2 separate regions of the Homo sapiens genome follow, and region 1 is linked to region 2. Evidence: fine-mapped expression QTL. A gene starts in region 2. The other region holds a variant in brackets. All regions are shown on one strand. Distances are from middle to middle. Region 1 overlaps HIKESHI (heat shock protein nuclear import factor hikeshi). Region 2 holds the start of HIKESHI (heat shock protein nuclear import factor hikeshi).

Region 1 (5,387 bases), 33 kb after region 2:
GTTAGAAAATATTGTAGGCATTGTGGGCTACATTTGATCTCTGTGGCATATTATTCTTAAACAACCCTTTAAATATTTGAAAACCATTCTTAGCTCCCACGTCATACAAAATAGGTTGTGGGACCGATTTGGCCTGTGGGCCTTGGTTTGTCATTGCATTAACCTACAATTTTCATGTTGCATTGCCCAAAAGATTATGCCACCTTTTAAGTAATATAAAAGGAGACTGGAGACACCATCTTTATGGTCTCTTTTTAGCTTTTATTGAACAGAATGTAAATTCATACTTTTAAATATTTTGTTCATAATGGCAAAGAGAAGAAAATTGACAGAGGAAGAAGTTTCACAATTATTAGACAAATCAGAAAATGAATACTGAAAGGTAAATTCTACACTGATGACGATGGTAAAGTGGATCATATAAGCAAAATTACCTACTATGAATCTTCAAATAAGATCTCATTATCTGAGTTTTCTCAACTAAAAATTTGATGATTGAACAATGTATTTTTAAGGATCAAGAGAAAATATGAGGCCGGGTGCGGTGGCTCATGTCTGTAATCCCAGCACTTTGGGAGGCCGAGATGGGTGGATCACTTGAGGTCAAGAGTTCCAGATTGGCCTGGCCAACATGGTGAAACCCCGTCTGCACTAAAAATTTGAAAATTAGCCGGTGTGGTTGCACAGGCCTGTAATCCCAGCTACTCGGGAGGCTGAGGCATGAGAATTGCTTGAACCCAGGAGGCGGAGGTTGCAGTGAGCCAAGATCGTCCTACCGCACTCCAGCCTGGGCAACAGAGTGAGACTCTGTCTCAACAACAACAACAACAAACAAACAAAAAAAAAAAAGAAAAGAAATATGGTATTCTACTCAGTCATTTAAGAAGAAGGAATTTCTCACATAATATTTTGTCATGGACAAGTAGTAAAGGATGTGTTCTGCTATTCTTTTATCTCTTATATTTGTGTTCCAAAATAGACTGGATATGGTTTTATAAATAGACAAATGCTGAAAGCAGGGGTGTATAGAGAAGTGATTGGAAGGAAATAGGTATAGGAATGAAAAAAAAAATAATTGGCTTGATCATTCTAAATAATGGTTATAAATCTAAAAATGAAAATATTTTGCAAAATGTAGATCAGAGGATAGCCATCCTTCAACAAATTATGAGCCGTTAAAGGTTTCAAAACTTCAAGCTTTCAGGTATTATATTATGGCAATGTAGATGCCAAAAAAAGAACAAGATACAACCATAAGCTATAACTTTATTAATAGATATCTGACTTATGAAATTTATAAAATGGATGTGTTCCATAAGACGCATGTGTTCCATGTTTATCCATGATGGTTGATGGGCAGTTGTATTCACAGGACATAGCCCATTTCAGCTATATCTTAAAAACAAGGAAAATGTGGAATGACTATCTGGATTTGCTGTACTTAAATACTTAGAAAAAATCTAATAAAGTTGTTTTCCACTATTTCCTGATTCTTCTCAACATTCTTTGTAAAATATGTGTGTGTGTGTGTGTGTGTGTGTGTGTGTGTGTGTAAAGTTTCCATTAGATGCAAATAACAAATGATGGTGACTGCTTTTCCTTGTATACTGAGAATAAAGAACTAGCTCCCTGTAGGAATTTTTCCTCTGAGTTGTGTTTTGTGTTAGGCTCTTGATTTACATGGAGGAGGGATGCTTTGAGAAAGAGTCTTAAAAAAAATTAGCTGCTGCATTTACTGTTAACAGTGTTTTAAAGAACTTGATCTAATTTACATTTGTTTTTTATATTAAGACTAGGTCATATATTTTGCTTGCTCTTCTTTGTATTATGATTTATAATTTATTATTTTTGCATCTATTTGATGATATGCTTTGATAATGATATGTTTTCTGGATTTTAGCATAATTCTAGATTTAAAAGAAATCAAACGGTAGAGTAAGGAGCTCCAGAAAATCCAGTCTTCCATAAAAGCAACAACAACACTGTCAGAAGATCACAGCTCACTGTAGTCTCGATCTCCTAGGCCTAAGCGATCCTCCCACCTCCACCTCCCAAGTAGCTAGGACCACAAGCATGCACCACCTCGCCTGGCTAACTTTTGTAGAGATGGGGTCTCCCCATGTTGCCCAGGCTGGTCTCAAACTTCTGGGCTCAAGCAGTCCTCCTGCCTCAGCCTCTGAAAGTGTTGGGATTACAGGATATGAGCAACTGTGTCTGACCCAGAATCAACTTTTTTGGAACTCTGGTAACTAACCAAAAGCTTGTAGCAATCAGGGGAACATTTAATCAAGAAAATACACTGAATCTCAGTAAGAACAGTGAGCTTTGTGGCATTTGGCTACCCTTGTCCCATCTGCTTCTCAGCTCAGTGATAGCCTTGAAAATAACAGACTCCATTCCTGGTACTGATATAGGGAGCAGGATAGACCTAATTCAGAAAGAATTGTAATTAACTTGTTTTCATCTGTCTGGTGGCTTGCTAGAAGACTGTTT[A/T]AAAAAAAAGAGGTCTGCCTTTATGTCACCTAACTTGGAACTCTTCATGGAAAAGTATCTACCTTGGGGGTGTTTGTTAAAAGTATTTACAGACATATGTTTTAGCTACTGTTGCCCGAGGCAAAGGAAAACAGTTGGAGTAAACCAAAACTAACCAGAAAGGTTGGGAATGAGATGCTTTGGGGAATGAGGGCTTTGAAATTCTCTGACATATTCTTGGTAATCTAGAAGGGTACGTGCATTCCCAGAGCTTTGTGCATGCTCAGGAAAGACCCGCGAAGACCCAGAGCTCTCTCTTCTGGCTCACTTTAAGTCTCCGCACAAGCAGGAAGTGAAGACTAAGGTGGAGTTATAAACTGCCTGGCTGAATACTAAAGGCATGTCCCAACACGCAGAGCCCATCTGCAAAGACTGGCAGAATTTTTTGGTTGCAGAGGTTTAAGGAAATTTCTTTCTAATCACTAGCAGACTACTAACTAATGGAACAGAGACTTCACTGGCCACACATAACAAAGAAACAGACTTTACAAAATTAGTTCAGATAAGTCATTAAATGAGGAAACAACTACAATAAACAGCAACAACAAACCCCTAGAAGGTGGAAACATCTGATTTATAGCGTCGTCACATTGTAATATTCAAAATGTCCAGTTTTCTACAAAAAATTATGAAACATACAAAGAAACAAAGTAAGGCTCTTATACAGAGGAAACGAACAGAAACTTCCCCCAGGGAAGCACAGGCAAAGACTTTAAGTAAGCTGTCTTTATTATGCTCAAATTGCTAAAGGAAACCAGAAGAATGATACATCATCAAATAGAGAATATCAATATAGAAATTATAGAAAGGAACTAAACAGAGTTTATAGCTGAAAAGTACAGTAACTGAATGGTTCACTAAAGGGCTTAGATAGCAGAATTGAGTAGACAGAAGAAAGAATCAGTGAAGTCGAAGATAAATTAATTGGAATATCCAGTTTGAAGAGCAGACCCTTAGAGACCTGTGAGACACCCTCAAGTGCACCAACATGCACAGCAGACACAGTGTAATGAGAGTAACATATGGAAAGGCGGGAGGGCTGGAAAGAATATTTGCTCTGGTCTGAATGTTTGTGTCTTTTTATATGATGAGGTCTTTTAAATTTATATGCTGAAATCCTAACCCCCAAGGTATTGGGAGGTAGGGACTTGGATGGTGACTGGGTCATGGGAGTAGAGCCCTCATGAATGGGATTACCACTCTTAGAGTAATAAGAAGATCACTTGCCCTACTACCACGTGAGAACACAGTGAGAAGGCACTGTCTGAACCAGAAAATGGTCCTTCACCAGATACCAAATCTGCCGGTTCCTTGATCTTGGACTTCCCAACCTCCAGAACTGTGAGAAATAAATTTCCGATGTTTATAAGCTACCCAGTTTATGGTGTTTTGTTATAGCAGCCTGAACAGACTAAAACAATATTTAAATAAATAATGCTCAGAAACTTCTCAAATTTGAGGAAAAACATTAACCACATTTAAGAAGCTCAAGAAACTCCAAGTAGGATAAACTACACCAAGACACACGATAATCAAACTGTCAAAAGGTAAAGAGAGAATGTTGAAAGCATCAAGAGAAGTAACTCATCACATGCAAGGATCCTTGCTAAGATTAATAGCTGATTTCTCATCAGAGACCCCATAGTCTTCTAGACGGTAGTGGATTGGCATATTCAGAGTTCTGAAAGGAAAAAAAAAAAAGCCATCAACCAGGAATTATATACTCAGCAAAACTGTCTTTAGAGATGAAGGAGAAATACTTTCCTAGATAAACAAAAACTAAGTCATTGCTGGCAGACCTGCTCCATAAGGAATGCTAAAGGGAGTCTTCTCTATTAATTATTTATTTTTCCCACACTCTGTTACTGTCTGTGTCTAGTTGCAGTAGTTTCAATACATTTCAGAAATGTGACAGCTATTTTTCTGGTGGGAAACTTTTAGTTCTTTTATTCTTTGTTAATATGCTAAAAACGAAGTAGGCTTTTGCATTTATCTGAAAAGAGGGACAAACTTGGACATAAAACTTTTTCATGTATATAAATTAGAGGTTCTTTATAAATTTACAAAGGAAATTGTGTGACTACAAGTTTAATTTGAAATGTGTGTCATATGTTAATTTCTTGCAGGAGAAGGAAGCCAACATCCTTTTGGAGCCATGAATATTGTCCGAACTCCATCTGTTGCTCAGATTGGAATTTCAGTGGAATTATTAGACAGTATGGCTCAGCAGACTCCTGTAGGTAATGCTGCTGTATCCTCAGTTGACTCATTCACTCAGGTAATGCAACATACATTTCATTCTTTACCTCCCCCTCCACTGCTTTATTAAGGTATAATATACAAGTTAAAATCGTAACTTAGGGTATACAATGTGATGTTTTTGATACATGTTTACATTTTGTTTTGTTTTATTTTGTTTTTGAGAGATGGAGTCTTGCTCTGTTGCCCAGGCTGGAGTGCAGTGGCGCAATCTCGGCTGACTGCAATTTCCGCCTCCCGGGTTCAAGCGATTCTCCTGCCTCAGTCTCCTGAGTAGCTGGGACTACAGGCACATGTCACCACACCCGGCTAAGTTTTGTATTTTTTTTTTAGTAGAGACAGGGTATTGCCATGTTGGCCAGGCTGGTCTCGAACTCCAGACCTCAGGTGATCTTCCTGCCTCGGCCTCCCAAAGTGCTGGGATTACAGGTGTGAGCCACCACACCCAGCCTATATTTTGACATAAAATCAAGCTACTTAACATATCAGTCACCTCACACAGTCATCATTTTTTTGTAGAGAACAGTTAAGATCTGATCTCTTAGCAAATTACAAGTATACATTATTAGTAACTGTATTCTCCATGCTGTACAATA
Region 2 (5,387 bases):
TTACCCTTGCATTCTGTGGCCCCTGATATCTCCAGTTCCTGAGCTTCTCTGATATTTATCTTTCTCTGTAGTACCTGAGTTTGATCTTCCACGCCTCTGCTAAGTCATTTGCCTTTCTTTTATCTACTTTCCATTGATATCTGTTGTGACTTGGGGTTACAGATATCTCCCAGTTCAGGGAAGACAGAGTTTGTGTGTCTATTTGTTGTTCTCCTTGTTTTGTAAAGAAAAATTTTTCAGAGAAGAGAAAAAATATTTTTTTGCTCTCTTCAAGTCAGAATTCAACCTAGAATTGGAAGAAACATAATGGCCAAAATGATAAAATAAATGATCTCATCATTAGGTTAATTAATGAAGAGCTAACACCAGGATTCAGAATCCCTGATACCCTGGCCACAATTAAACTATAACTGGTTCTTACTCCATAGAATCATATAGTTTGAGATGGGGGGGAGTACCTCTGAGGTTTTCAGCCAATTTCCCCAATTTTCCGTAAGTCTCCTCAACAATGTAAGTGGATTTCAGCATTGGTTACAATATCAATGTGAATAGGAGCATTCACTCTATTCCATGACTATCTATTCTTATTTCAGAGAGCTCTGATTATTGGAAAGATTTTTTTCCCTGAAACATTTTTTCACTTCCTCACACTGTATCTAGTTCTGCCCGCAGAAGTTACAAAGAACTACTGTATGTACAAATAATATAGTTTGGTAGCTGGAATACTGGCTACTCTAGAGATATGATACTGTACTCACTGCCTCTAACTCTTTGTACAATCTATAACTAAGACAGTTGACCAGCAAAATGGAGAAAAAGCTCATATCTCACATAACAGAGATTGAGACAATTAATAAACATCATCTGTAATTTATAAAAAAAATTCTAAGCTAGCTAGTTCTCAATCCACTAAATATAAGATTGCTGGGTAGGAGAAGAAATGACTATCAGGTGGGTCATAGAAAGGTTAGTGAAGAAAAGTGAGAGGATGTGTAAGAAATAACCAAGTGAATATTACAGGGAGATAAAACAAGTTGCATAAGCACATACAAATTTAAAAGTAGGAGTTGCTCAGAGAATTCAAAAGTATGGCTAGTGCACAAGGTGGGTATGAAGAAGACATGGAAAATTAGTTAGGAAAGGCAATAATGCTAAATATTAACATTTATTGAGTAAGCTACATTCTGGCCACTATTGAGTACTTTACGTGTAAGAACCCTCAAAACAACTTTATGAGGTAGATACTACTATTACTTCATTTTAAAGATGGGGAAAAGGAGGTATGGGAGTGTTAGGTTAACTTGCCTGAGATTATGTAACTAATAAATGGCAGAGATGGGCTCTGAACCCAGGTAGTGTGGGTGCCTTAATTTATGAAGTGGTCTTCATATGAATGGCCTTTTTATTCTGAAGGTTCTAGGACTTTTTAGATAGTAAGTTGGAAACATTGGTAGATCCTTTCCTACCTCTTCACCTTTGGCACAGCTATCTCAAAGGAGTATCGGTGATAAGATAGGTGATCAGTTTAGGGATCCACAGTGGAGGCCAGAGGACTGTTCCAAACACTGATCCCCCATATATAAACTGAGAACTGGGAAGACAGACCTGCTTTACGGCTGGTGGCCAAGCTCAGATATTTCAAATTGGACAGAGACCCTTTACTATCCTATTCAAGAAGAAAAGGAATTGGAGCTGTGAAAGGGAGAATAAGTATTGGTGGCAATCGGTACTTAATGCCAGTATTTTTTTTTTTTTTTTTGGCTATTGTTTTGTATTTCCTATGAAACTTTTCTGCAGATCCACATAGAAAAAAAATAGACATTTTTACAATAAAACTCCCACTAATTAAGCACAGCCAAGCACTGTTTTAAGTGTTTTATACATATTAGCTCATTTAATCCTCACAGCAACCCTAGGCAATAGGCTCATTATTTGTCTTTTGCAAAGGAGGGGCACTGAAGCACAAAGACATCTACAACTCGTCCACAATTGTACAGCAAATGAATGGGAGAACTAAGTGAAGCTGGAAAGAACTACTATAAATTGTAGACAAGTACAAAACAATTGGTTAAAGATTAATACTTCTGAGACACTGTGTAGCAGAAAGAAACCCGGATTTGGATTAGGACTTGAATTCAGCCTCCAACATTTACTGCTGTGTAAAGATTTGAGGCTGATCACTCCTATAAAATTTGGATTATAATACTTACCTCATAGGGTTTTTGTAAAGATCTAGTGACGTGATTATTGTAAAAGTGCACCGTTAATCTCTCAGATGTCACAGAAACGTTAGAAGCATCTCTTCCCAGGATTGTACATGGAAATGAAGGATCCACAGATTTTGTGGCTATAAAACACCCGGACTACCGATCCCAGTGTGCAAAGCCTCCAGGCTTACCTTCCCGGAAACTGGCGCGGTGCCCTCTGGGACTTGTTCTGGGACTTGTAGTCTTGTACTGGCGCTGGCCCGCCTTTCTTCCTTAGTGGGGAAAACCGGGTGTAAGCCCCGGAAGTACTTGTTGCCTGAGCAGTGGGCTGCTTAGGAAGAGAAGGTCAGAGTTCGCGGGGGCAGAGGCATTCTTGCCGCTGGCCCAGTCACTATGTAGTGGAGGGGCAGACACCCTCCCGCAAATTCTGGAAGGTTCTTAGTCTCGACTAGGGCAGTAGCCCCAGGACTCCTAGTCGCCGGCTTCAGGTCACTGCCGGCTGAACGGAGCTGCCGTCGCCATGTTTGGCTGCTTGGTGGCGGGGAGGCTGGTGAGGATGGGACCGGGTGATATCAGGAAGGGGTCAGGATACCGAGGGCGAAGCCCTACGGCAGGGAGGGTGCGCAGGCGCTAGGGATGCGGGGAAGCCCACTTATTATATTTTGGGTGGGTATGTGAGGATGGAGCGTGGGAAGCTGGGTGCTCTCCTTTGCCCAGCTCTATTCAGATTCTTTCGAATAGTAGTCACAGTATAAGTTGGCATTTATTAAGTGTGCATTTTGTACCAAGTACTGGGCTAAGTGCAATGCACGCCTTTGGTCACTCAGCCTTATGTGTGGCGCTTATTTGGCACTTTGAACTTAATCCTCATAACTCGTGAGATGGTCTTTATCTTTGACATTTTGCAGTTACAGAACTAAGTTCAATCGCCAGTATAAATACCTTCTTTATTAACTTGAGGTAGAGGTGAATTTGGGATTGAATTTGGTCTATAGCAAACTGTTTTTCAAAGATTAAGGTGCTCAGGGAATGTATATCTTTTGGGTCCCTTTGGAAGAACCCGAGTAAAAATAAGCTTAATTTAATTGGAAGTTGGCTGAAACTTAACGTGTGAGCCGTATCTGAGATAACCAGAGAAGGATGCGAGTAGTGTGTTTCCTTATGGGTCAAAATAGATAACTTACCTTGCCAAATTGTTAGAGTAAATGAGAACAGCACCTGGAATTCTTTAGGAATAATCTGGAAGGTGAATCTTGTTTGTTTCCTTAGAAACCACACAGACATCAATTTTCAGGCCTGATTCCTTTCCCCTAGAAGTATTTTTCCTTCTTTTTTCTCCTGGCTTTTTAAAATGTTGCAGTCCCTTTGCTGAATTGTCTTTTTTTCCCATCAAGTTTTGATAATGTATTGTATTCTGTACATATACAGTTCTAAGAAGCCAGAAAGATAAGTTGGAGATGACTAGCCTCATAAAGTTTGTCTCTTGAATGACTGGGAGACCCCTGTGGTGATGGTGGTAATTCATAATCCTGGTGAGATAATTTTGCCCTGCTCTTAATAGGGAAAAAGGACAAACCTGGAATGATTGTGTGACTCAGACGAGTGAGTGTTATTAATGAATGACATTAAAATTGTGTTTCTTAAAGAATAAAAAGCCTATTTGGAATCCATGTATCTCTCACGTTGTCAACTAATTTGGAAGGAAATTTAGTTATGGTAATACCTGCCTCTATATATTGGGGATACTTGGTCCTTTAATTATGGAGTATTAGGACACATCAAAGTGAAGGACAAATAGACCTAGTGGCATCTCAAAACTTAACTACACGACTCTGTTATAAGAAAAATCTACTTATCTAAACTTATGAACCCAGTTTTTATTTCTTAAGATTTTTTTTCTTAAAGAGATACACCTTTTCTTAATGTCAAAAATTAGAGTGTGATGATACAGATTTGCAGACTGTTCAGTACCTATACAAAGTTGACACTTAAGAAATATTTATTTTGCCTGGTGGTTATTTCAAGACTCATAAATAATAATTTCCCATGCTTTTTAGGTTATATGCATGCCAAAGACTGGTGAAATTGAATTTAATACTAATACAGGCCATTTGGTTTGTGTTATTCCTTTGTTTTATTCTTTATACTAAAGCTGGAGGATTTTAAAGTGGGTCAGAATACTTCTGAAGAGGGAATCAGAATTTGACTTTAGGAACACTGCCTTTGTATCTTGAGACTTAATTTAGGGCAGCCAGTTGATACTACTTTATAACTAATAGATAGTTGAAATTACATAGCAGTATATTTTTCCTAAGTTTATTTGTATCGGTAGATAGGATATTATAGAGGGAAAACTTACCTAACACACATATTTTCTCTGTAAGGCATGTCATAGCCTTCTTGCACTTAGGAAGACTAGCCAGCACTTGAACTTGGTCATTTTAAACAGCACGATCACCAACAAAAATCACAAAAATGCTTTAAATAGATGAGACTGTGAAAAGGACACTTTTTCATATTACGAGGACTGAAACAAGATGGCATGTTCTACCTCAGCTGCCAGTGTGTGAGTTGCACAACTCACTTTTTTTTTTTTTTTTTTTTTTGAGACGGAGTCTTACTCTGTCAGCCAGGCTGGAGTGCAATGGTGTGATCTCTGCTCATCGCAACCTCCGCCTCCAGGTTCAAGCAATTCTCATGCCTCAGCCTCCTGAGTAGCTGAGACTACAGGCATGTGCCCCCATGCCCAGCTAATTTTTATATTTTTAGTAGATACTACGTTTCGCCATGTTGGCCAGGCTGATCTGGAACTCCTGACCTCAGGTGATCAACCCGCCTTGGCCTCCCAAAGTGCTGGGATTACAGGCATGAGCCACTGTGCCAGGCCTACAACTCACATTTTTTACTACTGTTCATATGAGTATGTCCATGAATGACTGCAGAAATGCAGCAAGCATTGATTTGGGATTACAAGTGAGTTTTAGTGAGTAGGTGAATTCAGATACAGGATTTGTGAATAAGGAGGATTGCCTAATTACTTCTGGATTGCTTACCTGTTTTAATTACCTGAGATTCTTTTATTTATTTTTGAGACAGGGTCATGCTCTGTCATCCAGGCTGTAGTGCAGTGGCGGGACCTCGGCTTGCTGCAGCCTTGACATCCTGGGTTCAAGTGATTAT

The links. PIP is the estimated chance that this variant, and not a neighbour inherited with it, causes the effect. A credible set is the group of variants that fine-mapping cannot tell apart.
Region 1: its variant is the best candidate, but not a certain one, in a credible set for the expression of HIKESHI in whole blood (INTERVAL, PIP 0.60).

Annotation. Positions count from the first base shown.
Region 1 is chr11:86,332,721-86,338,107 of GRCh38, forward strand. It overlaps HIKESHI (heat shock protein nuclear import factor hikeshi), which reads left to right. Exons shown (of 5, transcript NM_016401.4): 3 at 4,659-4,810. It overlaps LOC105369421 (a long non-coding RNA gene), which reads right to left. Exons shown (of 5, transcript XR_007062826.1): 5 at 3,244-4,213. Among named protein-coding and RNA genes, the nearest start is that of HIKESHI, 33 kb to the left of the region's middle. The variant A/T (reference allele first, on the strand shown) is at 2,494.
Region 2 is chr11:86,299,722-86,305,108 of GRCh38, forward strand. HIKESHI (heat shock protein nuclear import factor hikeshi) reads left to right here and starts at 2,519. Exons shown (of 5, transcript NM_016401.4): 1 at 2,519-2,757. The coding sequence starts at 2,728.